Linked DNA regions of Homo sapiens. The protein of the gene in region 4 interacts with the protein of the main gene of each other region in a pairwise test. Each region holds a gene or a part of one and is shown on either strand. Other genes may lie near its edges.

The links.
Region 1: the proteins of CRB1 (region 4) and MSN interact in a two-hybrid assay, tested with the Homo sapiens proteins (one study listed by IntAct).
Region 2: the proteins of CRB1 (region 4) and EPB41L5 interact in binary tests that used the Homo sapiens proteins (3 or more experiments, as listed by UniProt).
Region 3: the proteins of CRB1 (region 4) and EPB41L4B interact in a two-hybrid assay, tested with the Homo sapiens proteins (one study listed by IntAct).

What each region holds. Positions count from the first base shown.
Region 1 is NC_000023.11:65,733,629-65,740,654, forward strand, and holds part of MSN (moesin), read left to right. Parts: intron 1-1,638; coding exon 1,639-1,802; intron 1,803-3,166; coding exon 3,167-3,297; intron 3,298-3,549; coding exon 3,550-3,710; intron 3,711-4,896; coding exon 4,897-4,989; intron 4,990-5,341; coding exon 5,342-5,566; intron 5,567-6,100; coding exon 6,101-6,265; 3' UTR 6,266-7,026. UniProt on the Homo sapiens protein: Ezrin-radixin-moesin (ERM) family protein that connects the actin cytoskeleton to the plasma membrane and thereby regulates the structure and function of specific domains of the cell cortex.
Region 2 is NC_000002.12:120,008,323-120,016,085, reverse strand, and holds the start of EPB41L5 (band 4.1-like protein 5), read right to left. Parts: upstream 3,010-7,763; 5' UTR 2,876-3,009; exon of another isoform or gene 2,405-2,875; intron 1-2,404. UniProt on the Homo sapiens protein: Plays a role in the formation and organization of tight junctions during the establishment of polarity in epithelial cells.
Region 3 is NC_000009.12:109,171,448-109,178,059, reverse strand, and holds the end of EPB41L4B (band 4.1-like protein 4B), read left to right. Parts: intron 1-1,363; coding exon 1,364-1,509; intron 1,510-3,436; coding exon 3,437-3,506; 3' UTR 3,507-6,086; downstream 6,087-6,612. UniProt on the Homo sapiens protein: Up-regulates the activity of the Rho guanine nucleotide exchange factor ARHGEF18. Involved in the regulation of the circumferential actomyosin belt in epithelial cells.
Region 4 is NC_000001.11:197,432,237-197,439,262, reverse strand, and holds part of CRB1 (protein crumbs homolog 1 isoform 1 precursor), read right to left. Parts: intron 4,558-7,026; coding exon 3,651-4,557; intron 717-3,650; coding exon 588-716; intron 1-587. UniProt on the Homo sapiens protein: Plays a role in photoreceptor morphogenesis in the retina. May maintain cell polarization and adhesion.

The DNA.
Region 1 (7,026 bases), on a different chromosome or scaffold from region 4:
GTCCCAGAAAGTGGACACTGTTCACATATTTGATTCCTTCCTTCCTTCCTCTCTCTCTCTCTCTCTTTCTTTTTTTTGATGGAGTCTCGCTCTGTTGCCCAGGCTGGAGTGCAGTGGTGCAATCTTGGCTCACTACAACCTCAGCCTCCCGAGTAGCTGGGATTACAGGCGCATGCCACCATGCCTGGCTAATTTTTGTAGTTTTAGTAGAGACAGGGCTTCAACATGTTGGCCGGGCTGGTCTTGAACTCCTGACCTCAGGTGATTTGCCTGCCTTGGCCTCCCAAAGTGCTGGGATTATAGGCGTGAGCCACCATGCCCAGCCCTTGACTTCTTTTTTTTTTATTGTGGAGAAAGGGCTGTGGCCAAAGTCCAAATCTGAAGATGATCCTACAGACTTCTTGGTAGAACTTTACTGCTGCCCTCTCAGACTTTTCTCCAGAGCAATCCAAGACCAAAAAAGTGCTTTAAGTTCATTCATTTCTCTAACACACTCGCCATGCTTCTTACCCACTCAGTAGCCTGCAGCTGACAAGACCAGACAGCTGGTGATTGTGGGTAGGTTAGGAAACTGAGCTGAGTGTCCCCTTTTCTGGGATACTGCATGTCCAACAAGGCCCAGTGACAATGCTGAGCCTGACCCTTTTCATGAAGGCTCAGTGATTCTTCTCCAGCCATGAGGTGCCTGAACTTCCCCTGCTAGGGACTTTACACATGTTGTCTCCTTAAACCCTCAGCAACATGGTCAGGTAGGTACTAAGTAGCATACTAATTTTATGGCTGACAAAACTGAGGTTAGAGAGATGGAGTGATTTGCCCAAGATCACACAGCTAAAAATGGTAGAGCTGGGATTTATACCTGCACCCCAAGCTATATGAGACAGTAGCAGTGTGTGGTCAGTGGCAGAGGAGATGGTGGTGCCCATCAGCTGGTGACTTCGGTCCAGTGGTATTTGTAGTAACAAACTCAAACTCACTGGATTTTCTTGTGTGTTTTCTTTTATTGCTGCTGTGCTCAACTATTATCAGAAAAAGTTAAGTAACAAAGCCAGCTGAGATCAAGGGCTCATTTTAAAAACAACAACCAGGACAAGCAGTGATCAGGAGATTTATGTATTCATGTATGTATTTACAGCCTGCCTTGTTCCAAAAAGGATTTAAGGGGCTGGGTCTAGGATTTGCTTTTAGGAGATTGTAGAAACAGTCCAGCCACCCATACTGCACCCACCAGGGTATTATTCAGGGGTCATTTGGCTTCCAAAAGAGGTCACCTGAGACCTAGCATGTTCCCTAATTAGCAGAGAAAGTTTGAATCCTTCAACTTGATTAAGAGTAATTTAGGATGCTTTCACAAGCAAAGATTGAAAGAAATTGTGGTTTCATAAGCAAAGATTGAAAGAAATTATGGGAAGAACATGGGTTTCAGAGTCAAGAAACCTGGGTTTCTAGTCTTGGGTCTGTCTACTGTCTAACCCTGGGCAAGTCACTTTACCACTCTGATAATTAGTCTTCCCATCTGTAGTGCAGGAGGTCAGATTAAATATTCTTTCCAGTGCTTTTGGATTTAGCTTTTCAGAAGGCAGAAGATCACCTTCACCTGTCCCTCCAAATTCTTTCTGATTGCTGATTTCCCACCAGGACTTCGTCTTCTATGCTCCCCGGCTGCGGATTAACAAGCGGATCTTGGCCTTGTGCATGGGGAACCATGAACTATACATGCGCCGTCGCAAGCCTGATACCATTGAGGTGCAGCAGATGAAGGCACAGGCCCGGGAGGAGAAGCACCAGAAGCAGATGGAGCGGTAGGTGCTGCACACTGATGTGGGGGGCCAGGGCTGGGGCAAGGAAGCTTCTCAAAGGTGCCCTGCATGCTAAGTCAGGACATGAGGCCAACCTAGGACTTCATAGATGAGAGGTTAGACACCAATATTCACATTTATTCAGAAAAAATCTACCAAGTTTGAGGGGCAGTTTTTACAGAGCTGGATCTAGCAGGAAACTGCCCTGTAGGACCTCACAGTCTACTCAGTCTAGTAGCAGAGAGAGGGAAAACAATATATACATAACTCAAGGTACAAAGGCCATGTCATTCATTCACTTAATAAATATTTATTGAGCAATGAATAAGAAAAGACCAAAAATCTCTGCTTTTGTGAAGCTAGCATTCTAGTGGGGAGGAGACGAACATAATAAATAAGCAAATTATGTGGTACATAAGATGGTTAAGAAGTGCTATGGAGACAAAAACATAGAAGAGGGATGGGGAGAAGGGTAAGCCAAGTATTCTGAGGGCCCAGATGGAGAATACCTAGCCAAGGGAGATAAGAAGGTTCCTGGAAGAGGTGCTAGGGCAAGAAAAAGCAAAAGCAAATACTTATTCCAGATTTGTAACAGACTCTGGGAAAAAGAAGCCTAGAGCTGGGCTTTAGGGCAGGCAGTGTTAGACCTGAGGACTGATGCACTAGCCGTAGAGATTACTAGACTTGAAGCACTTCATCCCAGCACAGAGCCAAAACTTGTCTCCCTAACAAGGTGGATAGGGCAGGTCTTATTGGACCATTTTCAAGATAGGGGAACAAGAGCAAAGCAGTGACATAGCTAAGGTCACCCAGTGGGTTGGTGGGAGAGCTAGGATTCCTGACTCAGGGGTACATTGACAGGGCCCCGTGTACACTGGCCTATGTGGGGCTATGATATGAGGACAAGGGTATAGAGGTAAGGGAGGGTGGCCCAAACTCACAATCCCTAAGTGTGTTGGGAAGGTTGGGTTGAGAGACCCAGAGGCAGCAAGCCTTGGAATTCCCCAGGCTTTTTTTTTTTTTTTTAGATGGAGTCTTGCTCTTTTGCCCACGCTGGAGTGCAGTGGCGCAATCTCAGCTCACTGCAACCTCCGCCTCCTGTCTTCAAGCAATTCTCCTGCCTCAGCCTCCTGAGTAGCTAGGACTACAGGCGCATGCCACTATGCCCAGCCAATTTTTTTTGTATTTTTAGTAGAGACGGGGTTTCACTGTGTTAGCCAGGATGGTCTCGATCTCCTGACCTCGTGATCTGCCCACCTCGGCCTCCCAAAGTGCTGGGATTACAGGTGTGAGCCACCGCGCCTGGCCTCCCCAGGCTTTTGTGGAGCGTTGTTATCCTGTTCTATCCATTTTATCTCCTTCCCTAGTGCTATGCTGGAAAATGAGAAGAAGAAGCGTGAAATGGCAGAGAAGGAGAAAGAGAAGATTGAACGGGAGAAGGAGGAGCTGATGGAGAGGCTGAAGCAGATCGAGGAACAGACTAAGAAGGCTCAGCAAGGTGAGGCTTGGAGTCACCTTGGAGATTGGATTTTTCCAGGCCTAACTCTGAGCTGGAGAACCTTCTGCCTGAGCTGTAGACTCAGACAATGTAGTTCAGGTGTGGCTACAGACTAGAAGAAGAATGGGCAAGAAGAGAGCTCAGAACTTTCTGCCAGCTTTGTCTTGGGGTGGATCATTTCCAGGAACGAAGCTATTGTGTCGTCTTTATCTCTGTGCTCTTCACTGCCTTCTCCCCTCCTTTTCTGCTCAGAACTGGAAGAACAGACCCGTAGGGCTCTGGAACTTGAGCAGGAACGGAAGCGTGCCCAGAGCGAGGCTGAAAAGCTGGCCAAGGAGCGTCAAGAAGCTGAAGAGGCCAAGGAGGCCTTGCTGCAGGCCTCCCGGGACCAGAAAAAGACTCAGGAACAGCTGGTAAAGCTGTAGGGTGGGCTGGGATTATGGGAACTGAACTTTCTTCCTTGTCTGCCTACTTACTTATAGCTACTTTTGCTTACATGCTGGCTTTTTAGAGCAGGCTACCACTCCATGGGCCTCCAGCAAATAACTAGTTCAGAAGCAAGCTGAGAAGTCACTAGTGTGGCCCAGAAATTTTTGCAGTCTTCCCTAACCCTTAGTTTCTGTTCACTTTCTTAACTCTTGGGTATCTGAGCTGATTGACCTGGCAAAGGAAAGGGAAGGAGAAAAGAACAAAAGGGACTCATATTTGAGCTCCTGCTGTATGTTGCTGTGTTGGGAATATTTCCCTTTTCCTTACTTATTTCTTCTTCCCAGTAACCCTATGGGATTAACCTCATATGAGATAATATCCCAGATAAGGAAATTAGAGCTCAGGGAAGAGATTCACCAAAGATCACACAATTGTAGCTAAATAAGGATTAGAACCCACCCATTTCTGCCTCTGTTTGAAAGCTTTGCTCCCTGAAATCACATGCAAAACTATGTGTCTATGCATTTTTGGGGCATTTGGCATCCATACTTTCATCACAGTTTCCAAGGGTTCTGTGACTCAGAAGTTAAGAACCTGTGGTCCAAACTCCTTGACATATACTCTTCCTTTGTACTGTTGGAGGTGGGAATAGAGGGAACCAAGACCTGTCTCTCATGAGGAAGCTGTCATGGGAGATTTACCCAAGGTGTGCATAAGCTTTTTTCCTTGTTCAGATAGCTTTGTGACACTTGAGTGTCTTTCCTGTACTTGTCCTGGGAAGACTCTTAGTCGAATCCTGAGCATTCTAGGATATCAGGAAAGGATCTGCCACTTCAGGAAGTGACCCAATGATGGCCAAAGCTTTACTGAGGCCCCCAGCTGCATACTTGCCAAGAGGGGCAGGGGGAGAGATAATGAGGAAGGGACAGAGATGGCATATTGTTTGTCTTCAAGAGGCCTACAGTCTAGGTGGGGGAGCTCTGACTTAAAAGGAAGTGGTGGTCAGGGAAGATGGGACTGGAATGAAGTAGTCTGGTAAAAGAGTCTCTGAGGCAGCAAGCAAGTGGAGCAGTAGGTCCCTTACTAGTCCCCCAGGGGACTTGGGTTGAAGACACCTGGGTCCTGAGGACCAGAAGGCCCAGCTCTCACAGGCTTCCAATTTATCCGTAGGCCTTGGAAATGGCAGAGCTGACAGCTCGAATCTCCCAGCTGGAGATGGCCCGACAGAAGAAGGAGAGTGAGGCTGTGGAGTGGCAGCAGAAGGTAAGACACAGGGCCTAAAGCAAAGCATTGAAGGAATGGGTGCCATATGCATAGGTAACAGCTCCTTAGATTCCTTATGTTTTGGCTCCCTCCCTCTTTCATACTTCCCACAGCAGGCAGCATGGGAGAAGGCACTCATGGTTTCGTCAAATACTTACTGGAGTTCTCTAATACCTCTAGGAAGTTGGTACAATTGCTCTTGTTTTATGGATGAAGAAACTAAGGATCAGGCAGATGAAGTGCCTTGTCCTACCTGGTGCCTGCCTCTTGCCAGACCGTTCTAGGCATATACAGGATGCCACAGTTTAACTGGTCTCACTGACAGTCTTTCTCTCCTTCTGTCACTGGACAGGCCCAGATGGTACAGGAAGACTTGGAGAAGACCCGTGCTGAGCTGAAGACTGCCATGAGTACACCTCATGTGGCAGAGCCTGCTGAGAATGAGCAGGATGAGCAGGATGAGAATGGGGCAGAGGCTAGTGCTGACCTACGGGCTGATGCTATGGCCAAGGACCGCAGTGAGGAGGAACGTACCACTGAGGCAGAGAAGAATGAGCGTGTGCAGAAGCACCTGAAGGTATACAAGTAGGGCCAAGGGGCAAGGAAACTATATGCATTGATTTAGTAGCCCATGGCATTCCCTAGACCATCATGGGGGATAGGTATAAGATCCTGTCCCAGTGTTGTATGGGAGCCCAAGCCGTTCTTAAGTGACAGCTTTAAGGATAGGCACCTCTCACTTATTAATCAGACCTTGGGCTATCTCTTCCCTTTTTGAGATTTTCTCTCTGCCCCACCTCCCACTCACTCCATTCACCTCTTACATTAAGAAAATATCTAGCTGACAAAATTCCCACCTGAATCTTTTGTATGTTGTTCTACTCTTAAAGGATACCCATTATCAACTGGTCCCCTAAGTTTATTTATTTTTTTTTAATATTCTTGCCCCACTGCAGTTCTAACAGAGTTGGAAATGACTCTCAATATTTATATATAGAGAGAAAGGGTGAGGAAGAAAGAAGGAAACAGAAGAGAAGGGAAGTCTGGTCAAATAACAGGAGGTAAAATGAGAGAAAGCCATTGACCTCTGTGTTCCCATACATCCTCACAGGCCCTCACTTCGGAGCTGGCCAATGCCAGAGATGAGTCCAAGAAGACTGCCAATGACATGATCCATGCTGAGAACATGCGACTGGGCCGAGACAAATACAAGACCCTGCGCCAGATCCGGCAGGGCAACACCAAGCAGCGCATTGACGAATTTGAGTCTATGTAATGGGCACCCAGCCTCTAGGGACCCCTCCTCCCTTTTTCCTTGTCCCCACACTCCTACACCTAACTCACCTAACTCATACTGTGCTGGAGCCACTAACTAGAGCAGCCCTGGAGTCATGCCAAGCATTTAATGTAGCCATGGGACCAAACCTAGCCCCTTAGCCCCCACCCACTTCCCTGGGCAAATGAATGGCTCACTATGGTGCCAATGGAACCTCCTTTCTCTTCTCTGTTCCATTGAATCTGTATGGCTAGAATATCCTACTTCTCCAGCCTAGAGGTACTTTCCACTTGATTTTGCAAATGCCCTTACACTTACTGTTGTCCTATGGGAGTCAAGTGTGGAGTAGGTTGGAAGCTAGCTCCCCTCCTCTCCCCTACCACTGTCTTCTTCAGGGTCCTGAGATTTACACGGTTGGAGTGTTATGCGGTCTAGGGAATGAGACAGGACCTAGGATATCTTCTCCAGGATGTCAACTGACCTAAAATTTGCCCTCCCATCCCGTTTAGAGTTATTTAGGCTTTGTAACGATTGGGGGATAAAAAGATGTTCAGTCATTTTTGTTTCTACCTCCCAGATCGGATCTGTTGCAAACTCAGCCTCAATAAGCCTTGTCGTTGACTTTAGGGACTCAATTTCTCCCCAGGGTGGATGGGGGAAATGGTGCCTTCAAGACCTTCACCAAACATACTAGAAGGGCATTGGCCATTCTATTGTGGCAAGGCTGAGTAGAAGATCCTACCCCAATTCCTTGTAGGAGT
Region 2 (7,763 bases), on a different chromosome or scaffold from region 4:
TAAAGAAAAAAAATCACACATGTGCTTTAAGTTGTAGGAACAGGATTTTTCGGAGCATAACTGATTTAAGAAAATTTTAAATGTGTTCATCAATGTGCAAACAGTTAAACAAGTTATGGTACACACAACAGCATACAATACAGTTGTTTTATTTTTATGTTTTTTTTTTTTTTTTTTTAGAGACAGTCTCACTCTAGCACCCAGGGCTCACTGCGGCCTTCATCTACCATGCTCAAGGGATTCTCCCACCTAGGGCTACGGGCACATACCATCCCACCGGGCTAACGTTTTTTCAATGATTTTTTGTAGAGACAGGGTCTTGCTACTTAGCCAGGTTTGTCTCAAACTCCTGGCCTCAGGGAATCGGATTCCTCCCACCTCAGCCTCCCAAAGTGCTGGGATTACACGCATGAGGCACCAAGCCCAGCCATAATACAGTTGTTTTAAATAAATAGTTGACTTAGATATGACAAAATTTCTAAGTGAAAAATCAAATCACAGAACACTGAAGAGAGTTTCATCCTACACGGAGATGGGATACATGCACACACACAGACACGCTAAACAGACACACACGTAAACTGTTGAGATTCTCTCTGAAGAGGGGCATGTCAGAAGTCACAACAAGAATATATGGCTGGGTACAGTGGCTCATGTCTGTAATCCCAGCACTTTGGGAGGCTAAGGCGGAACTGTTGGAAGCCAGGAGTTCAAGACCTGCCTGGGCAACACAGCAAGACCCCACCTAATTTTTTTTTTTTTTTTGAGTCTCGCTCTGTTGCCCAGGCTGAAGTGCAGTGGCGCGATCTGGGCTCACTGCAAGATCTGCCTCCCGGGTTTACGCCATTCTTCTGCCTCAGCCTCCCAAGTAGCTGGGACTACAGGTGCCCGCCGCTACGACCGGCTAATTTTTTGTTATTTTTTTTAGTAGAGGCGGGGTTTCACCGTGTTAGCCAGGATAGTCTCCATCTCCTGACCTCGTGATCCGCCCGCCTCGGCCTCCCAAAGTGCTGGGATTACAGGCGTGAGCCACTGCGCCTGGCCTAATTTTTTTTAATGGAAAAAAAAAATAATATGAATGGATCACTAAAAGTTGTGGGTTTTTTTTTTTTTTAATGATTGTGAAAAAAGTTTTCTCATACTCACTTTTCCCCTCCCACCTGCACTCTTCCAATTGCGCTCTTCATGTTGCAGCCACTGGATTTTTGGCAACCACAAATCTGATCCCTGTTCTAAAATCTTTAATGGCCCTGGTCCTAGATGCAGCTCCTCCTACTTGCCTGACCCATCTGTCAGCCTACTCCCCTCTGTTTGCTCTGCTCTTGTACTCTTGCTGCTCGGCCGGAGAGTCTTTTTAATTCTGGACCATTTTTCATTAGCTGTTCCACCTTTCTGGATTGCTCTTTTTCCAGTTGACCTCTCTTCCACCCGCTCCCATTTCACTGGACTAACTTCAGACTTATAGTTGAAATGTCTTATTCTCAGAAAAGCAATCTCAGACTTGTGAGTCTAAATTCGACATCTCTTTCAGTACTCTTAGCCTTTTCTTTATAACAAAGAAATTGTAATTAAATATCTGTTAATTATTATCTTTTTTACTGACTACTTCCCCCACTCACACACAAGGACAAAGACTTCGTCTGGCTTGTTCACTACTTTGGCCCAACAGCTGGCTTAACCCGCATCTCGCCTGACACACTAGAATGACACAGTGGAATTTTTGGATGGTAGGTTTATGTGGCTTCCAAAAAACAGTAGTTTCTACTCTAGTTCCTAACTAGAAGGATTTCCTTTAGAATCATAAAATGCAAATTTAAGCAATCCTATCAGAAGTTGGTTAAAAAAAGTACCCAAAACCCAAAAGTTAGTCATGAAATATGTATACTCTTACATGACTGGTGGCCACAATATGGTTGGTTAATTGCTTTTTGATAAAGCAATATAACATACAGCAAATGCCATTTAAGGTAACACTATATTTTGTCCCAGTATTCCCAATAAAGAAAATGCAAGCGAGTAATTCAACAGCAGTTACGCATATCGTTTTCGAATAATGTTAACCTATTTTCTAAAGCCTGCACAGCATATTACATGCACAAATAATCCAACAAGGTTAACTAGAGCTCAGCAACGGGTTATGTTAGAAACTGAGTTAATGCAGTTGTGGGTTACATTACAAATGTACACGGTTATGGGAATTTTCCCCGTAATTCTTTAAAAACTTTTAATATTAGTCTAAAATATTGCCAAACGTTTTAAGAGTTGGGTCTCGCTCTTAGGTAGAATTCGAGTAACCACAGACACAATTAACATTTACACACCAAAGAACCCATCATTAGCACGACAACCGTCCCGGGTGGGGGCGGGGCGGGACCTTCAGACCTCGTCTTTCATGGGAACACACCTGCCTCTCCTTTCCCAAGAGACTGAAGTTTTTCTCAAATACAGGTTAGCTCGAAAAGTCCACCAAGACAGTGACACAAACTCAGTTCGTTTTTCCCCTTCCCTTGCGACTTTTGTCTCTCCCGCTGGACGGCAGCCCAGCGGACCAGCGAGGGGTACCCGCGGCTCGGGGAGCGCGTCCGCTCGGCAAACATTAACCCGGCTGCCCCGGGCCCTCCGCCCCGGCCCGTCGCGCGGTATCGACCGAAACTCGGCGGCCCTGCCTCATTGGCCGCCGCCGCCCCTCCCTCCGGCGGGATTAATGCCCTGCCGGCCCGACGAGAGAGGGGCCGGCCGCCCTAGGGTCTGGGTGCGGCCCCCGCCCGCCTCCCCGGGGACAAGGCCGCTACCGCAGGCGCGGGCGAGGAAGGGTCCACTCGGCTAGGAGCGCAGCGGACTGTACTGCGGCGCCGCCGCCGGGCCTCGCGCTTACCTGAGCTGGGGACGGCGCAGCCCCGGCGACCAGAGCGGGGAAGAGCCGAGCAAGGCTGAGAAAGGGGCGGCTCCTCGGTAGACGCCGAGAAATGGCGCCCACAACGAGCCCACCGGCTCTAATCCCCGGAGGACCCCGACCTCCCGCCCGTCCACCCCTTAAAGCTCCCTCCCAGCTCCGCCCCCAGGGCGGAGCGCTCCGCTCTTAAACGGGCGATGACACCGCCCCGGAAATTGGCCGGCGCGGCGACTGGAGAGAAACCGGCGAGGCCGGGCCCGGCCGGGCTGGAACTAGCGCCAGCAGCCGGGCGTCCGCGGCTGGTTTAAAGGGGCGCTGCCGAAACCCAGTTCCCGCTGCGGCCCTCCGCCCGCGGAGGAGGCGCCCGTCCGCAGACAGACCCCAGTTAGTCCTATCACGAAGGAGGCTGGTGGAGCTGGCTGCTAGATTCATTCATCCATTCGTTCAAGAGATTAAATCCTTCGCAAATACTTATTGAGAGCCTGTCACGTATTTCCTCCCTTTTTCTCCTTTGTAGGGATTAAAATACATTTAAATCTCTGCTGTTAAAGTGACTTTCACTCTACTGGGGAAACAGTAAACAAATAGGTGTCACAAGGTGATTAAGTGTAAATGAGGAAAAATAAAACTGGGAAAGAGAAATAAAAGATTACTGCTTAGCAGAGTGTGGTCAGGAGGGTACTCTAACAAGGTGACATTCAGTCCGTTCATTCTACAGGTAATTGATTGAAGTGCCTACTTACTGTGAGTTCTGTGTTCTAGACACGAGATACGACAGACAACCAAGACAGACAAAAATCCTTCCCGGAGTTTACGTTATAGCAGGAATATAAACGAGACATAAAATAAACGAGATAAATTAGTGAAATTAAATACTGTCAGACATTGGTAAATGCTAAAAAGAAAAGTACAAGTAGGGAATAACCACAGGCAGTGAGGGTTTGCGATTTTACATAGCAGGTCACAATAAGAAGGTGGCATTTGGCTGGGCGCGGTGGCTCACTCCTGTAATCCCAACACTTTGGGAGGCCGAGGCGGGCGGATCACGAGGTCAGGAGATCGAGACCAGCCTGGCCAACACTGTGAAACTCCGTCTCCACTAAAAATACAAAAATTAGCTGAGCCTGGTGGCGTCCGACTGTAGTCCCAGCTACTCAGGAGGCTGAGGCAGGGGAATCGCTCGAACCCGGGAGGCGGAAGTTGCAGTGAGCCCAGATCACGCCACTGCACTCCAGCCTGGCGACAAAGCCAGACTCAGTCTCAAAAAAAAAAAAAAAGGTAGCATTTGAATGAAGACCTAGAGGAGGTGTGGGAGGAACCCTGTGGCCATCTGGGGAGAACCGAAGGGAACAGCAAGGGCAAAAGGCCCTGCAAGGGGACAGGTCTGTCTTTTCAAGGAAGTCCAGTGTGGCTAGAAGTGAGGAAGCAAGAGGAAGAGGAGGTGACAGTCAGAGAGGAAAGGGGTAAGATGTAGGGCCTTGTGGGCCCTGGCTAGAGCTCTGAGAGAGGTGGGGGAGCCACTGGAAGGTGTTACCTTGAGGACCCTCTGCTTGCTGAAATGAAAAGAGACAAATACTCATTGAGCTTCTTCTCGGGATTTGGCACTGCCCACTCCTCCACCACCCCAAAACGTAGTAGACAGGCTTGGCAGCTCATCTCTGCCCCATGTGGTGTTGGCTGGGCAGCTCAACAGGTGCTGGAGCTGCCAAGGTGGTTTCACTGGTCTGTGTGGCATCTCCGCTGGGGTGGCTGCAAAGAACAGCTGAGTTCTGCCTGGGCTACTCTCTTGCAGATCCGCTGGTGTGGCAAAACAGTGAAAACAGAAGCTCTGAGGCCTATGAAGGGCTATGCCCAGCAGTCACGGAGCGTCCCTTCTGCTGCCTGTTAATGGTTTAAGCAAATCACAGAGGCCGCCCAGTTTCAAGGAGATGAAAGAGACTCTACCTCTTTTTTTTTCTTTAAATATTATTAAAATAGAGAAATTTTCCTTCTCCACCTTTTAAAAACATCTTTATTGAGATATAATGCACCCACTTAAAGTGTACACTTCCATGGCTTTGGGTATTTTCACAGAGTTGTAGAACCACAAACCACAATCTAATTGTGGAATATTTTCATCACTCTTCATGAGAGGAGCAGCATGGGTGTTCAGGGATGGGAGGAATTGTTGCTGGTCATCTTGCATCTTTATCTCAACAAAAAAACGAAATGATATGGCAGGGGGAAGCAGCAATGGTATAGATGAAACAAGAATGGGCCATAAACTGAGGCTGGGTGATGGGGACGTTAAACTATTCTATCTAAAATTTTTCATAATAAAGTCCTTTAGACCGAATGTGGTGGCTCATGCCTGTAATCCCAGCACTTTGGGAGGCCGAGGCAGGAGGATCACTTGAGGTCAGGAGTTCGAGACCAGCCTGACCAACATGGTAAAACCCCGTCTCTACTAAAAATACAAAAATTAACTGGGTGTGATGGCACATGCTTGTAATCCCAGCTACTAGGGAGGCTGAGGCAGGAGAATCTTTTGAACTCAGGAGGTGGAGGTTGCAGTGAGCTGAGATTGCACCATTGCACTCCAGCCTGGACGACAGAGACTCTGTCTGAAAAAAAAAAAAAGAGTATTTAAAAAAATACCACCTGGACACCTGTAATCCCAGCATTTTGGAAGGCCAAGGCTCAAGAGTTCTAGCTCAGGAATTCGAGATTGGCCTGAGCAACATGGTGAAAACCGTCCCAGCTACTCAGGAGGCTGAGGCAGGAGAATCGCGTGAATTCAGGAGGCGGAGGTTTCAGTGAGCTGCTTTCTCTGCACTGCACTCCAGCCTGGGCAATGCGAGTGAAACTCTGTCTAAAAACAAAACAAAACAAAAAACAACAAACAAACCCACCTGGGCCAGGTACCCCGAAAAGCATTCCTTCTTCCCAGGGGTCTGATTAGCCAGTTGGAAAACTGCAGGGTCTTCAGTGCCATCCCCTCAGCCTGTCCAGACTGTCTCTTTCCATGTTTACCTGATGTTTACTCATTTGAAAAGTTCTGGTTTATCTGATTACAGATCAGAAATGGAAGTGAATTCTGTCAATACTTATAAACATATCTTATTCTCCTAAATTGTTGAAAAGCATACCAGTTTTGAAAAACAGTGTCCTCTTCATCCATCCTGCTCAATCTTTTTTTCTATCTCCTATCAAAGATGGAACTGGGGCTGGGCACGGTGGCTCATGCCTGTAATCCCAGCACTTTGGGAGGCCGAGGCGGGTAGATCACCTGAGGTCGGGAGTTCGAGACCAGCCTGACCAATAAGGTGAAACCCTATCTCTTCTAAAAATACAAAAATTAGCCAGGCGTGCCAGTGTGTGCCTGTAGTCCCAGCTACTCGGGAGGCTGAAGCAGGAGAATCACTTGAACCCAGGAGGCGGAGGTTGCAATGAGCTGAGATGGCGCCACTGCACTCCAGGCTGAGTGACAGACCAAGACTCCATCTCCAGAAAAAAAAAAGGTGGAACTGAAGGAGGCTGTGGATGAGGTTAGAGAAATCTGTTGAGAAAGATGGTTATAGGCTAAAGGAAATATGAAGACTTGAGGAAAGGAGGATGAAACTTAAGGGCCCAAGTCATAGAAAGTTGTTCATGTTCTAATTATGTGAAATTATTCCTAATAACAAATCATTGTCTCCCCAGATCCTCTCTTCTAGACATAGGGACCCTCTGTAACACACGTTTCGTGATAAATTCACCAGAAAATTGACTTCTGCCAGAGACAGAGAAAGCCCTCTCCTTAAATATAGCTGTATCAAGGAAAAATGCATTTGGCTGGAAGTAATGGGAAATTTTAACTGTTATTTGAAAAATAAGGAGTTTATTTTTCTCACATAAGTAATCTAGAGGTAGGCAGCTATTAGTACTGGTTCTGCTCCTCAACAATGCTGTAAGGATCCTAAACCCCTTTACCATTTCTGCTTTGCCACCCTTAGCATGTTGACCTTGGTTTTCATGCTTCTAGCATACTGGCCACAGGACGGATGCTTATCTCCAGCTTTCTTGAGTTTCAGGAATAAAAGGGAAGGGGAAAAAGACCTTTACCTGAAGCCTTGTCTTTTAATTCAGAGAAGAAAGTACCAGCACCCCCTGTCTCCGGCCAGAACTACACTACCTGCCCTAACTCAGACCAATTAAAGGCCATAGGGAAAGAGAATACCATGACTGGCTTAGACCAGTCAGGATTCACCCTTGGGAGCTGGAGACCAAGGGCTCTCCTTAACTTTCTGAACAAATCCAAATTCTATTAGCCTCAAAGAGAGAATGTTGCTGAGACAAATAACTGTGGGTAGCTATAGAAGGTGCCTACCAGCCTGGCACGGCGGCTCACGCCTGTAATCCCAGCACTTTGGGAGGCCGAGGTGGGTGGATCACGAGGTCAGGAGATTGAGACCAGCCTGGCCAACATGGTGAAACCCCGTCTCTACTAAAAAAATACAAAAATTAGCTGGGCGTGGTAGTGGGCGCCTGTAATCCCAGCTACTTGGTAGGCTGAGGTAGGAGAATCGATTGAACACCAGAGGTGGAGGTGCAGTGAGCCGAGATCGCGCCACTGCACTCCAGCCTGGCAACAGAGTGAGACTCCTCTCAAAAAAAAAAAAAAAGAAGGTGCCTACCAAAACCCACTTCCTGGTGGCATTGTCTTGGCCCATGGAAAGATTTTCTTTTACTGAACTAATATATTGAACAAATACCCTCACGTGAGATTTTCACTTCTATCCTAGGTCCTGGTTTGCTCTCTGGTTCCACACAGATAGGGGTATATCCAGTTTTTGTGTAACTCATATACTGTAATTTGATGGTGGGGGAAGAGGTCTTTAGTTGGAATAAC
Region 3 (6,612 bases), on a different chromosome or scaffold from region 4:
TAGTGACAGCTACTTGAGAATCTTAGGCAGAAGGATCACCTGAGCCCAGGAGGTTGAGGCTGCAGCGAGCTCTCATTGTGCCAACTGCACTCCAGCCTGGGCAACAGAGTGAGACTCTGTCGAAAGAAAGAAAGAGAGAGAGAAAGAGAGGAAGAGAGAGAGAACCTGTGAGGAAATATACTGATGGCAACAGTAAGGAATTATGGAATTTCTTCATTGATCTACTTTTTTTTTTTTTTGAGACAGAGTCTCGCTCTGTGCCCAGGCTGGAGTGCAGTGGCGCAACCTCGGCTCATTGCAAACTCCGCCCCCAGGTTCAAGCGATTCTCCTGCCTCAGCCTCCTGAGTAGCTGGGATTACAGGCGTGCGCCAGCGTGCCCGGCTGATTTTTTGTATTTTTAGTAGAGATGGGGTTTTGCCATGTTGGCCAGGCTGGTCTTGAGCTCCTGACCTCAGGTGATCCACCCACCTCGACCTCCCAAAGTGTTGGGATTACAGGTGTGAGCCACCGTGCCCGGCCTGATCTACTTTTATATATCTTCTAAGCTTTCTATATACAAGTAAACAGAATAGTTTGCTATATAATGAAAATGACAAGAATATATTATCCTCTCCAAATGAGACAGTATACTCTAGACCAGTAGTTCTGAAGCTTTATTGTAATTCCTCCAGAAGAATCACCTGGAGGTCTTGTTGAAACACGTATTGTTGGACTTCATCCCCAGGCATTCTTGGGTCCCAGTGGTCTTGGGTGAGGCCTGAGAATTTGCATTTTTACCAAGTTTTAAGATAATGCTGATGCTGCTAGTCTGGGGCCCATACTTTGGGAACCACTGCTACAGTAATGAAAAACCCCAGTTATGGTGTCAGCTAGCCCTGGTTCTCAGTACTGTTCTTAACACTTACTAACTGTGTGACCTTGGGCAGATTACTTAACCTCTCTGAGCCTCACTTTCCCCCATAAAATCAGTTTTAAAATATACATTTGTTTTCACCTTTTAACATTTCCCGATATCAGAATGTTTACTACTGGGCATGACAAAGTTTGATAGTGGGCATGACAAAGTTTAAATGGCTACATGTTTCTTTCTGATTGGCAAATGCAAAAATGGTGCATCTTACAACTGATGGTGCCTAAGATGTGAGGAAATATAATCGCTACCTTAAAGGGTTGTCAAGAGTTAATATGTGTCAAGTACTTAGCATGGTGTCTGGCACAAAGTAAAATCACTTAAAATGACAATCGATTTTAGCTGGTAGTGAAAAGGAACAGGAACTGTAGAGTAAGGCTTAGGGAGCAACTGACAGTGTGAAAATGGAACCCAAATTGAGATTGATCTCCTCTTTCCTGTTTCTTCTCCAGGCAGACTTCAGAGACAGTAAATTACAGTGCTGTCCTGGCCCGACTTCCCCGCTGATCCCAGCAGCGACCCTGAGGCCTTTGACAGAGACCGTCTCCACAGTGCAGACCATTTACACCACCCGGAAACCTGTTTCTCTGGCAGCCAGGTAGGTCAGGTCAGCAGGTTCCGACAGGTAATTCTGGTGACAGGGAAACCAGGGAGACTCTAGGTTCATTGTGTTTGTGACACGTACAGGCCTTTCCTACATTCTTTCATTTATTCTGTAAGTATTTATTGAAATGTCTATAAAGGGGCCAGGTGCGGTGGCTCTCATCTGTAATCCCAGCACAAGGGAGGATCCCTTGAAGTCAGGAGTTCAAGACCAGCCTGGCTAACATGGTGAAACCCCATCTCTACTAAAATTAGCCAGGCGTGGTGGTGCACACCTGTAATTCCAGCTACTTGGGAGGCTGAGGCAGGAGAATCACTTGAACCCAGTAGGTGGAGGTTTCAGTGAGCTGAGATTGCACCACTGCACTCCAGCCTGGGCAACAGAGTGAGACTTTGCCTCAAAAAAAAAAAAATGTTTACAAGGGTAGGCTGTTAGAGGAGATAGACAACAAATGAGTGTGTGTGTGTGTGTGTGTGTGTGTGTGTGTGTGTGTGCGTGTGTGTGATATTGACAAGGGATAGGGAGGAAAATGAAATTGTGAATGGCAATAAGGTATCCTGGGATGGCCTCAATGAGGTGGCATTTAAGCAGAGCCCTGAAAAGGGCTATAGAGAAAGCTGCAGATACCTGGGAGGAGTACTGCGCAGAGCAACCAGCCAGTGCTAAGGCTCCTGAGGAAGCATGTGCCTGACATGGTTACGGAAGTTTAAGGGGCCAGCGTGGCCAGAGCAGAGTGAATGACAATAGAGGAGGCCTGTGAAGTTGTGGGTTAAGGCCAGACTGCGTAGGGCCTTGTTGGCTACAGTAGAAACTTTGTTTTCTACCCTGAATGAAATTATTAAACTTGGTTAGTGCCTTTAAAGATGTGTATTTTGCCAGGCATGGTGGCTCGTGCCTGTCATCCCAGCTACTCAGGAGGCAGAGGTGGGAGGATCAGTTGAGGCCAGGAGTTCAGGAGTTCAAGTCCAGCCTGGGCAACATAGCAAGGCCCCATCTCTAACTAAAAACAATGAAAAGATGTGTATTTACTCTGTGTGTGTGTGTGTGTGTGTGTGTGTGTGTGTGTGTGTGTGTGTTTAAACAGTGGAGACAGGTTACATAGATATGCAACTGGACCTGAGGTCCAAAAAGTCAGAGGCAACTTCTCAAAACAGCCAATTTTACTTCATTCAATTTGATTCATTAAAATATAATTAATTATTTGTTACAACATTCCCTCAGATATTCATCAAATGAAAGCCTGGGAGAAAATGCACATGAAACCAATTTAAAGCATGATTTAAATAAATCTAACCCCTGGACATCTTCATTCAAAAGTCTTTACTGAGGGCCGGGCTTGGTGGCTCATGCCTGTAATCCTAGCACTTTGGGAGGTCGAGGCAAGTGGATTGCCTGAGCTCAGGAGTTCGAGACCAGCCTGGGCAACACGGTGAAACCCCGTCTCTACTAAAATACAAAAAATTAGCTTGGCATGGTGGCACGTGCCTGTAATCCCAGCTATGCTGGAGGCTGAGACAGAAGAATCGCTTGAACCTGGGAGGTGGAGGTTGCAGTGAGCCAAGATCACGCCACTGTACTCCAGCCTGGGTGACAGAGTGAGACTCCATCTCAAAAAAAAAAAAAAAAAAAAAACACTTTACTGAGTGGCTGCCATGCACCAGATACTGCGCAAGGCTCTGGAGGTTTAGAGATGAATGACATATAGTCAGCCAGGAACTCTCAGCATGGTGGGACTGAGAAACCAGTAAGTAGCCAATTTCAGATCACTGAAATGCTAGCAAATGTAGATAGTCCTCAAGGAGTCTAAAAAAGAAAGTCCAACACTGAGATCAGGAAAGAACCTGGGAGATGATACTTAAGCTGTCTGCTTCTGCAATTTTTGAGGGATTGTCTCACTATTTTGTCACATACTTTTTTTTAGTGCAGAGACACTCCGGCAGGAACTGGAGAGAGAGAAGATGATGAAAAGACTGTTGATGACCGAACTGTGAAATTCTCCCCTTGTCACCTGGAAGATGGCATGGTGCCTTCTGTCCGTCTTCTTTCTTCGGGCTTTGTGTGCTCACTCTAGCACAGCATACAAGTGTGTGCTCTGTTCGCCCAGGTCTCCATGGTTAGTTGAAGCCAATTTCTGGCTTGACTTTTATGGGAAAAGTTATTTTATGTCTCCTAAGCATTAGAGTTTTTCTATTACTCTATGTAGTTGAGACAGGATTTGATAAGTCTAGGAAAAGAAAGATGGGAAAACGGGATTCCTTTTCAGAAGTACCTGTGTGTATCTGTTAATAACCACAGGGGTTAATATGATGTAGGATCTTTTACTATCAATTTCAACCATTTGATTTTGTATGATTGAAACTTGCACCGAGCTTTGACTGTTTGTTAAAGAGTCATTTTTAATGAAAGAATAATTCTTTATTGCTGGTTTTTCATTTACACTGATAAATACACAGATCTTATAAAGTCTTTAACATTCATTTGTATTCAGATGTGAGTAGAAGAACTAAAAAAAGAAAGTTACATATCACTATGACTGAAGGTACTTCAGCTTAATCTGAAATATAATTTAACTTGTGAACTCCTTGGATATGATATTATTTGGAATAAACAGAATTTATCATTGAACCCAAAGTAGGAAATGATAGCTTACATTGTCTAAAAATCCTTACAAGGTTAAGATGATTCAATATCAAGAAGATTCAGAAAATTATTTCTAAAGTTGATCGATTCATGTCGTATTGATAGAATCTTGACCAGAAGAAATTTTGCTCTTTTTATATAGTTTCAAGAAATGTGTTTTTAAATTTTTATTAATGCACTTGAACAACTTTGCAGGAATAAAGCAACCCCCTAACCACAAAATATCCCTCTAAATTAGTTCCCTAGCTTTCTCAATGAATACACACATATTTTTACATAGCTATGATCGTTGTGTACATTCTCCTTTGTTTTACTTCTCGGCCTAACACTTGTCTCCTCTTGTCAACACAGATTCTACTCTCACCAATTTAAATGTCTTTATATCCATGTAACATGGGTAACCTCACTTCACCCCATTATTAGATATTTGAGTTATATCTAATTTTTCACTCTTATAAATAGTGCTGCTATGAATGTCTGTAAAAAAAAAAAACTGCTCCTTCTTTTGGATTATTCCCTTAGGAATATCTCCAAAGAGGGATTACAAGGTCAAAGAGCATGAAGTATTTTATAGCTCTTGTTTTATATTGCCAGATTGCTTTCTAGAAAGATCCAATCTTTGGGTTGGAAGGACCTTAAAGGTCATCTAGTTTAGCCTCCCCACCCCCTCTGAATGCTTGAATCCCCTCGACAATTTATGATGCCACCAGCAATGTATAAGCATTTCTGTTTACCAATAGCTCTGCCAGTATTGGGTTTTGCCATTTTTATTTATTTTTGCTAGTTTAATAGGTATGTATAGTTGTTCTTGAAGAGTTGTTTTATTTCATTAATTGCTAGCAAGGCTGAGCACTTTTCCATGTGATGATTTACTAGTTGTATTTCCTTGTGTGTAAAATGTTCATTCATTTCTTATGACCACTTGTTAAGAGGAACTGATCTCATATATTTGTATCAGAACTGTATTTTTATGTTATATTGTATAGTTTGCTCTCCTGCCCCTCTCCTTAAAACTGAATGGTGCCAATAATTTGATACTAATGACTACAAAAAAAGGTAATGCCTCATTTACTAGTATTGTTGTAAAATGAGGAATGTATGTGAATATTCAGATAACCGAGGATTAACCCTTTAAGTGCTGAATCTTTAAAATTTTAATATATTTTTTTTTGAGGGAAATCTTTCTAAAATGTATTACGCACTTCCCTGCCTTAGTAAACAGAGTATACTGGAGAGTATTTAACCTTTTCTTGATGAGTCATGGTCATGATTATAAACATCAGCCCCTTTTATACCTTGGTACGGTGCAGTGATATCATTAAGAGCTATCAATATGTGTAGGGCTTGGCTTGGCCTTTTATAGGATATTATGCTGTTCTCACTGATGGTTTTTTACTGCTCTCTGCTCTGTCAGTGGAGCTATCCGGGGCAATTGTAGCGTTTGGGTCCTTTTACCCCTATGTCCCCCGGCTATACTTTTAAAACAGCTTTAGCTGTTCTTTATCTTGTGCACATGATACAAAATATGTTCCCGTACAATATGGGGCTGTCACTTCTTGCCAACCCAGCACCCTCTTCCTCTTCTAACCTGCTTTCTGAGGCTTCTGCTCTTCACCTCCTGCTCGCTGATGGAAACCTCCAGGGCAAAGCTGAAGGTTTCTTGGGGAAGCCAGGAAAGCCAGTATTTCCTATGTGTCAGATCTGCTTGGCTTCCAAGAAGGGATGCATGGGCTTTTTGGCCAGTGTTTCCAGGAGGCTCTGGGCTTCCTGCTTCTTCCCCGCTTCCCCCAGAGTTCACAGATGTTGAAGTTTCTGAAGGTTGACGTCACTGGAAGTCTGACCACAAACAAGTTGGCTGTTACTGTATTTGAAACCCAGTACCTTTGGCAGCTCACCTCTAACCAGTAAAATAAGAGGATTCCATGGTTTCAGCAGTTGTCCTGGTTATTTGCCTATTTAAGTGAATGATGGGTGCTTGGCATTGTGACTGAGAAGATGAAATTGTGCTGGATGGATTCATAGGGATGAAAATGAATTGGCGCAATTGTTTCACATTTTTTATATATTTTAAACCCAAACAACAGCACTATATGGGCACACAACACACACCTTATGTCCGGGGGAAACAATCAGCTTACTGACATAGTCATTCCAGAGCTAGGGCTCCAAACTGTAGGATGCAGATTCCCAGTAGGCATGGAAGGTTATTGCAAGGGGTCTGGGAAACCTGCAACCCACAGCTTTATGGATTGTAAACTGCATAGGAAATTCTATGTTTGAAGAGTTTGAGATCCTAGGGCATTCAGAAGATCCCACTTGCATGCACCCAGAATTTTATATTCCCCAGGAATATAGCAGAGGAATATTCTGGTATCATATTTATCTTTCACCATCTCAAAAATTACAGTTTTAAAAACTCAAATAAAATTCATCACTATAACCATTTTAAAGCGTACA
Region 4 (7,026 bases):
TATTCAGTATGCATTATTTCTACCCCTGAACTTACCCCTAGCCACTCAAATACATATTCTAATTTTCCTGTATTTTCAGCAGGTCACAGATTGCCTGAAGCCATTGACCAACTCCATTTTAAGAATTCCTGTATGAGGTGAAGAACAGTTGAAGAGTTTCTCTGGGAAAAGTAGACTCATATGGATAAGGTATATATACTTTTGGGTTGTAGGCAATTCTATGAGGCAATCTTTTAGTTGTAATTTATTTTACCTCGACAGCAACCATATTTGCATCATGTATTAGAGTTAGCAACAAAAAAGAGACATGAATTCAGAAGTACTTATAAGAAAGAAAAATAGCACATTATACATTTTTTAAAAATCATTTTTCCCTATTTGAAGTTTTGTCTAATAAAATGTTCTCCCCTTTGACCTAAACTGTAGTTTTTCTTCTTTTTTATTGTTTCATTCTGTCTGAACCTCTATTTCAGCATAGATTTTCCTATGGGAACTGAGATAAAAAATTAGAGGAGAAAATGAACTTTGAGTAATCCCATCATTCTTTAGCTCAGAATTCTCTTCCAGAAGGCTCTAATGTGACTCACCATTCTCCAGTAAAACCTGGCCGGCACATACATTTTAATTCAGTCTGGAACTCTGTGCAGTTGCCTCCATTGTAGCAAGTGAGATTTGTCTTCTCATTCCCACAGACTGTTGAGGGTAATCTGCTCTGTCTAGAGAGATAAAAGCAAGAGCCACAGCTGTTCATCTTGTTCATCTCATTCAAGAAAAGTTTTCTGATAAATTCATGTATGTAGTCAATGCCAAGCTAATTAAGTACTCAGGCTGGAGGAGCTACAAATGCTTAATTGTGCTGCATTATGCAAGAATCACTTTCTCCAGTAAAAAGCTCCTGCTGGAGGGTTCTGTGACAAGCATGGCTATACATCTTCCATTTCTACACAGTTTTCGTTTGTGAGATAAGATCTATGCCATGGGGTGGCAATAAATTTTGGGTTGGAAAAGAACTTGCTATAACTAGATTTGCTGCTGCTTTGCTAATAAATCAATAAAGGCCATAGGAAAATTGCATCTCTATAAAGGCCAGGAAGCAAGGACAGCACTCTACTACCCAAGCACTCATGTGATTTCTCTATTGGCTTTCAGAGCTGAACTCCAGTTGCCCTGCCAAGACTTGCTGCTCCCTATGTAATAATTCATAGCTTCGAAGAATGCAAGCCAAATGCTGTCCAGGAGCTTTGTATATAGCACACGATGGTAACTGCATGTGAATTCAGAGTGTGGCTCTCTGATATGGCAACAAAGCTTTACATGTTAAAGAATCCTCATAAAAGGCGGAACAAGTATTAGAAGCTAAGCGGAACTTCACTGTAAGACAAAATCTAGTAATGTGAAGGGACTGATATTTAAAGAGTTTAATAGTGTTGCTTAGGCCCTTTGACCCACTGTGTATGTGCATGGTATCAGATAACTAATAAATATTCAGGAAGTGTAAAATGAATTGAATTTTGTTCTGTTGTGTGTGCTGCAGCTAATGTGGATAGACTAGCTTATATGATGCTAAGTGTGTCTCTTCCCGCAAGAGCTAATCAATTCTACTTTAAAAAGAAGGATATCATAAAGACTTTTCAAAAGAGCCAAAAATGTCAACCAGCTTTGAAAGAGGTCAATTAGCAATGCAAATATGAAGCTTTGTATACATCTTGGTTTTAATAAACAATTCCTGAATCTCATTAGAAGGTATTTTTGAGGGCTTTCATCTTTCAGAACTTGACTTTAATGAATTAGGCAGAAAAAAATTCTGGAGAAGTAGTTACTAGGGCCTATGTGTTTATTTTACTTATCAAAATTCACAGTGAAATATACTAAATTTGATCCTGAATTCTTCTTGCTTTTAAACAGGCAGGTTACCTGTTGGGAACACTTAGCACCTACAACAGTGCCTTGCTTTCACAGGCTCAGAACAGTAACTGTTAAGGAGAGATGTACAACTTCTTATAGGTATGCCTACATGTTATGTTTGCTAGGAGATTCATGCAATTAAGGTACCACCTCTGAATTAGTGTAATGTCTACAGGCTGCCAACCCATTCCAGGTGTTCTTGCCGAAGTTCTGGAATGTATTACTTGTTAATAATAACCCTCTCACCTCCCCATAATGACTCAATTATTTAGTAAATTTAAAGCGGTGTAAGTTGTAAAAACAATAATAACTTCTTACATGGAAATACTGAAGCAATGTGACTTAGAAGAAAAATAGTCTTTCTTATCTCTGTTTATATAGCTTGAAATGGAGGTAGTTACAAGAACTAAAATACTGCTTTTGTAGTTGTAGAAAAATGTGAAATACTTTGAAATGGGCAAAAAAAATCACTGCATATTCTTTCAATGCACTGCTGGGTTTACATAAAGGACTATCCAGGATTATCCACTTTTGCAGTGGTCTGTGCCTTATTACAATTCTGTAAGTTGTAGAAAACAATATTAATATGAAAATCTTGTTCGTCAAAATGCAAATTAGTTTATCTGTAGTGAGCCATACAAATGATTATCACAGTATTGAAGATGACTTCAAATACTAGTTTTCTTGCCCTATGGGATATTAAACAGTTTTGTATTTATTAATAAATTCATTCACTCATTCTTGTTTGTATATATACGTATACATATTCTTTAGATTGTCCTTTGAATTAGTTTTTATATCTTACTAGTTTCCTCATTAATGACAGAATAATTAAAACATGTTTATTTTATATTTGTCTGAGAATTATAATTCCACTGTTTTGAAATTACAGTTGACCCTTGAACAACACATGTTTGAATGGTGTGGATTCACTTATATGTGGATGTTCTTTCACCTCTGCCACCACTGAGACAGCAAAACCAACCCCTTCTCTTCCTCTTCATCCTAATCAACATGAAGACAATCAAGATAAAGATCTTTGATGATCAATTTCCACTAATGAATAGTAAATTTATTTTTTCTTTCCTATGATTTTCTTAATAACATTTTATTTTCTCTAGCTTGCTTTATAGTAAGAAGACAGAATATGACATACAAAATATGTGTTAATTGACTATGTTATTGTTAAGGTTTGTGGTCAACCAGGCTGATAGTTGTTATGTTTTGGGAGAGTTAAAAGTTAAATGTGGATTTTCAACTGCACATCAGCACCTCTAACCCCTGCGTTGTTCAAGAGTCAGCTGTATACTTTAATGTACTGTTTTCGGGATTTTAGAGTATTTACCTGCCTGAAATAGCTCAAGGCATTATTTTAGCAATAGAAGTCATGCCTTCCCTAACAATACTACATTTCAGCTTTTGCATTTATTGTAAATGCATTTGTTTCCCGAGGCCTTGAAACTGTTAGACCCTGGGGCTACAGTTCATGAGACATATTTTCACACAGATGACTGAGAAAATATTTTGCTGAAAATCTGATTTAAACACTACCTTTCTGACCTGTAGAATATCCTGGTAAGTGAGATCCCATCTGAACATGACCAAATTGTGACAGAAGCTACCAGTGTCACCCTGTTCAGCACAGTATATATGTATACCTTGAGGAGAGAGCTTTCCAATTTGACAAGAACAGTGATGCAGAGTATAGCTTCAAAGACCAAGCTTCATATGGACTTTATGCTCACCTGCAAAATTTTCCTGTAAAATTTCCAAAACAGAGGCAAGAATAGCCATTAGTATGACTAATGCAGGTGGCTCCATTTGCACACTGGTGACTCTGGCAGTTGTCTATATCCACTTCACAGTTCACACCAGTGTATCCAGGCTCACATGTGCAGTGGTAGGCTGCAACTCTGTCAGAGCAGTTGCCATGGATACAGGGGTTTGAAAAGCATTCATCGATGTTGAGTTCACAGTGTTTCCCTGACCATCCCAAGGGACAGGAGCAATGATAAGAGCTATAGATGTCTTCACAGTTTCCTCCATGCAAACAGGGGTTGGAGTTGCAGACATTTAACTGCAAACAGCCAGTGACCACTGAATTGGTAGAGATTTTGAGAAATTGCTCTTCCTGAGGTTTATTAATGAAACCATGAACATTTTCAAAGTAAGAGAGATAAATGCCTCCGATTTCTATTGTACTTAGACACCCTTGCAGGCCCTTTATATTGTCAATAGCTCTGTCTCCCACATAAATATCTGTATTATCCTTCAAAAAGTTGAGGCTTCCAGTAGCAATTGTGCTGGTCACAAAAGGTGTTTCGTTGTCCACTTCCATTTGCCACCTGGAGGTCTGGGACAGTGGGTCTGTCATGGAAAGGGTCACTTCGTGCCATGTGCCATCATTCACTGACTGCAAACTTGTCAGACTTAGCATATAAAAGCTGTTGCCACTTTGCAATTGAAAGAATAATCTGGAATCTTGAATGCTAATATTAAGAAATTCAGGCTCTTTTTCTGCATGCAATATTATTACATTTGCATCCCTTGTTCTGAAACCAAATGTGATATTGGTGAGTTCTCTGGTAATATTCCCATTGCTTCTGAATAATATTTGACCGCTTTGTCCATTAAAAACAGCATTTGCAATACCTAATGAGAGAAGGTGATAATAATCAATAACTTTATTAAATCTATAGTTTGCTTAATTACCGTTATTAATAGTAATGATCATTGTGTTAATAACATTGCATATTGACTATTTGATACATGTTACATACTGTGCTAGTTGCTTTTATATTATTTCTAATATCAAACTTTTGAATACAGGTATTATTATTATCCCCATTTTATGGAAGAAGAAGTTGAGACTCACAGAATTTAAGTAATTTTGTTCATGGTCATGTAATTAATAAATAACAAAGCCAGAATATCAAACTGGGATGGTCTGATAGCAAAACCAAAACTATACATTTCTTTTCCAGTGAAATCCTAATGCATGCCAATTTTTATTTTGCATTTGCTCCCACAAATAAAGCATTGATAATTCATTTTACACATAAATAAATTGAGCAAAAAGAAATCACAAATCTAGCTATGGTGACCCAGAAAATTAACAGTGGAGTCTGGCTTCTGATTAAGCTGATGAGTAGGCAGTTAAAAGTAGCATTCCAAATGACTGATTTACTTACCTGGTAAAACTCCAATTATGTGACAAGCTGCAAATTCTGTATCTACACCCAAGTACTTTCATATACAACCATATCAATTGCTCTCATGCTATATGTGAGCAGAGCACTTTGGGCAATCCTATTGCATTTCTCTATTAAAAACTTTTTTCCCCATTCTATAAGATGATTAACAAACAACTTGTTCTGTCTCTTAAAATATCTAATTCTGTCTCAGCTTATGATCTCACCTAATATTTTCTTGAAAAAACAGAGCTACCTCAGATATCCATCAAATCTGTAAACCTAATATTATTTGGATCCACACTGCATTCTATCCTGCTATAATAGACGTATTGTCTGTATTCCCACCAAGGTCAACTCTACCAGTTATAAACTGGGTCCTACTGCTTTTCACCTTTTAAACATATTATTCCTCTATGCATTCTTTTTCTTTCTTGCATCATCATTTCCCCTTCCATTTTGTTGTTTCCCATCAATATACAAATATGTGTAATTGCTTTAATCTTAAAAAATAAAAATACACACGAAACAGTATCCTGACATCCCCCAATCCTGCTGCTTTTTTGTCTATTTTCTTTACCAGCAAAACTTACTAATTTTATATCCCCATGGTCTCACTCTATTATTCCTCATTTTTCTCTTTTATATATGCCACTCAAGCTTTTGTCCCAGTCACTTCACTAAAACCACTTTCATGGTTACAATGAATGACCTCCATGTTACTCAATGCAGTGGCCAATTATCTACTTTTATTGTATCACACTTTTCAGTAGCAAATGACCTGAAAACACTATTAATACATTATCAGGCACTACACCCAACCACCATCATCTTTCATTAAGACTAATTACTTCTTAGTGTCCCTGCTTCTACTGCTCTGCAGATCAATATAACAACCACTCCTTAGTCAAGCTCCATTAGTTATCATCTTTAAAAGAAATCCTAAATTCTAAACATAACCACAAGAGTGTACATGATCTGAGCCAGTTGTGGGTATAATCTCAGCTATCTGGGAGGCTGAGGAGGGTGGATAGCTTGAAGTCAGCAGTTTGAGACTATCCTGGGCAACATAATAAGACCCCGTCTCTCTTCAAAAAAAAAAAAAATTCATGACAAAATTTTGCCATGTTAAAAAAAAAAGCATCTACATGATCTGGCCCCTGATTAACTCTCCAATTCCAATTCATTCACAGGCCACAGCCACAATTTCTTGCCATTCATTGAAGATACACCAAGCTTGTTCCCAGCGCAGGCCTTTTATACTTGCTGTTACTTATACCAAGAATATTATTTCCCCAGATCTTCTTATACTTGGCTTTTCTTAGTGTTAATATCGCTCAAATGTCACCTCCTCTGAGAAGCTTTTCCCTGACTATCCAAGTTAAAAAAACCGCCTCCCTGCATTCACTGTCTATGCTTAATTTTCTTCATAGCTCCCATTACCACTTAAAATTACGTTTATTTGTTTACTTGTTCCTTCACTGTCTTTCTGCACTAGGACATAAGCTTTATGAAACCAAGGATCCTCTGTGTCTAGGTTATCACTAAATCCTTATGCCTAAGCCTGTGTGTCCCTGATGTATAGTAGGTGCTCAGTAAACATAATTAAATGAATACTCTATGAAAATAACTCCATCCTGTATCCTGAAAAGTGAGATAATGATTAGAAACCACAGCAGGAGAAAATTTCAGTGTATCATTCAAGTGTATTATTTGACTTAATTAAATAAATCAATTCCTTTGATCTTATTGTTTTTTACTATGTGTGTGTGTGTGTGTGTGTGTGTGTGTGTGTGTGTGTGTGTGTGTTTCAACCAGGTTTGGAGTTGGGAATTTAGGGAAAAAAAGAGCAACAAGTGTTTCATTACATGTTTTTAAGTAAATGTTAAAATAAAAAATCTCCAAAATTCTCCAACTCTGAAATGAAGAC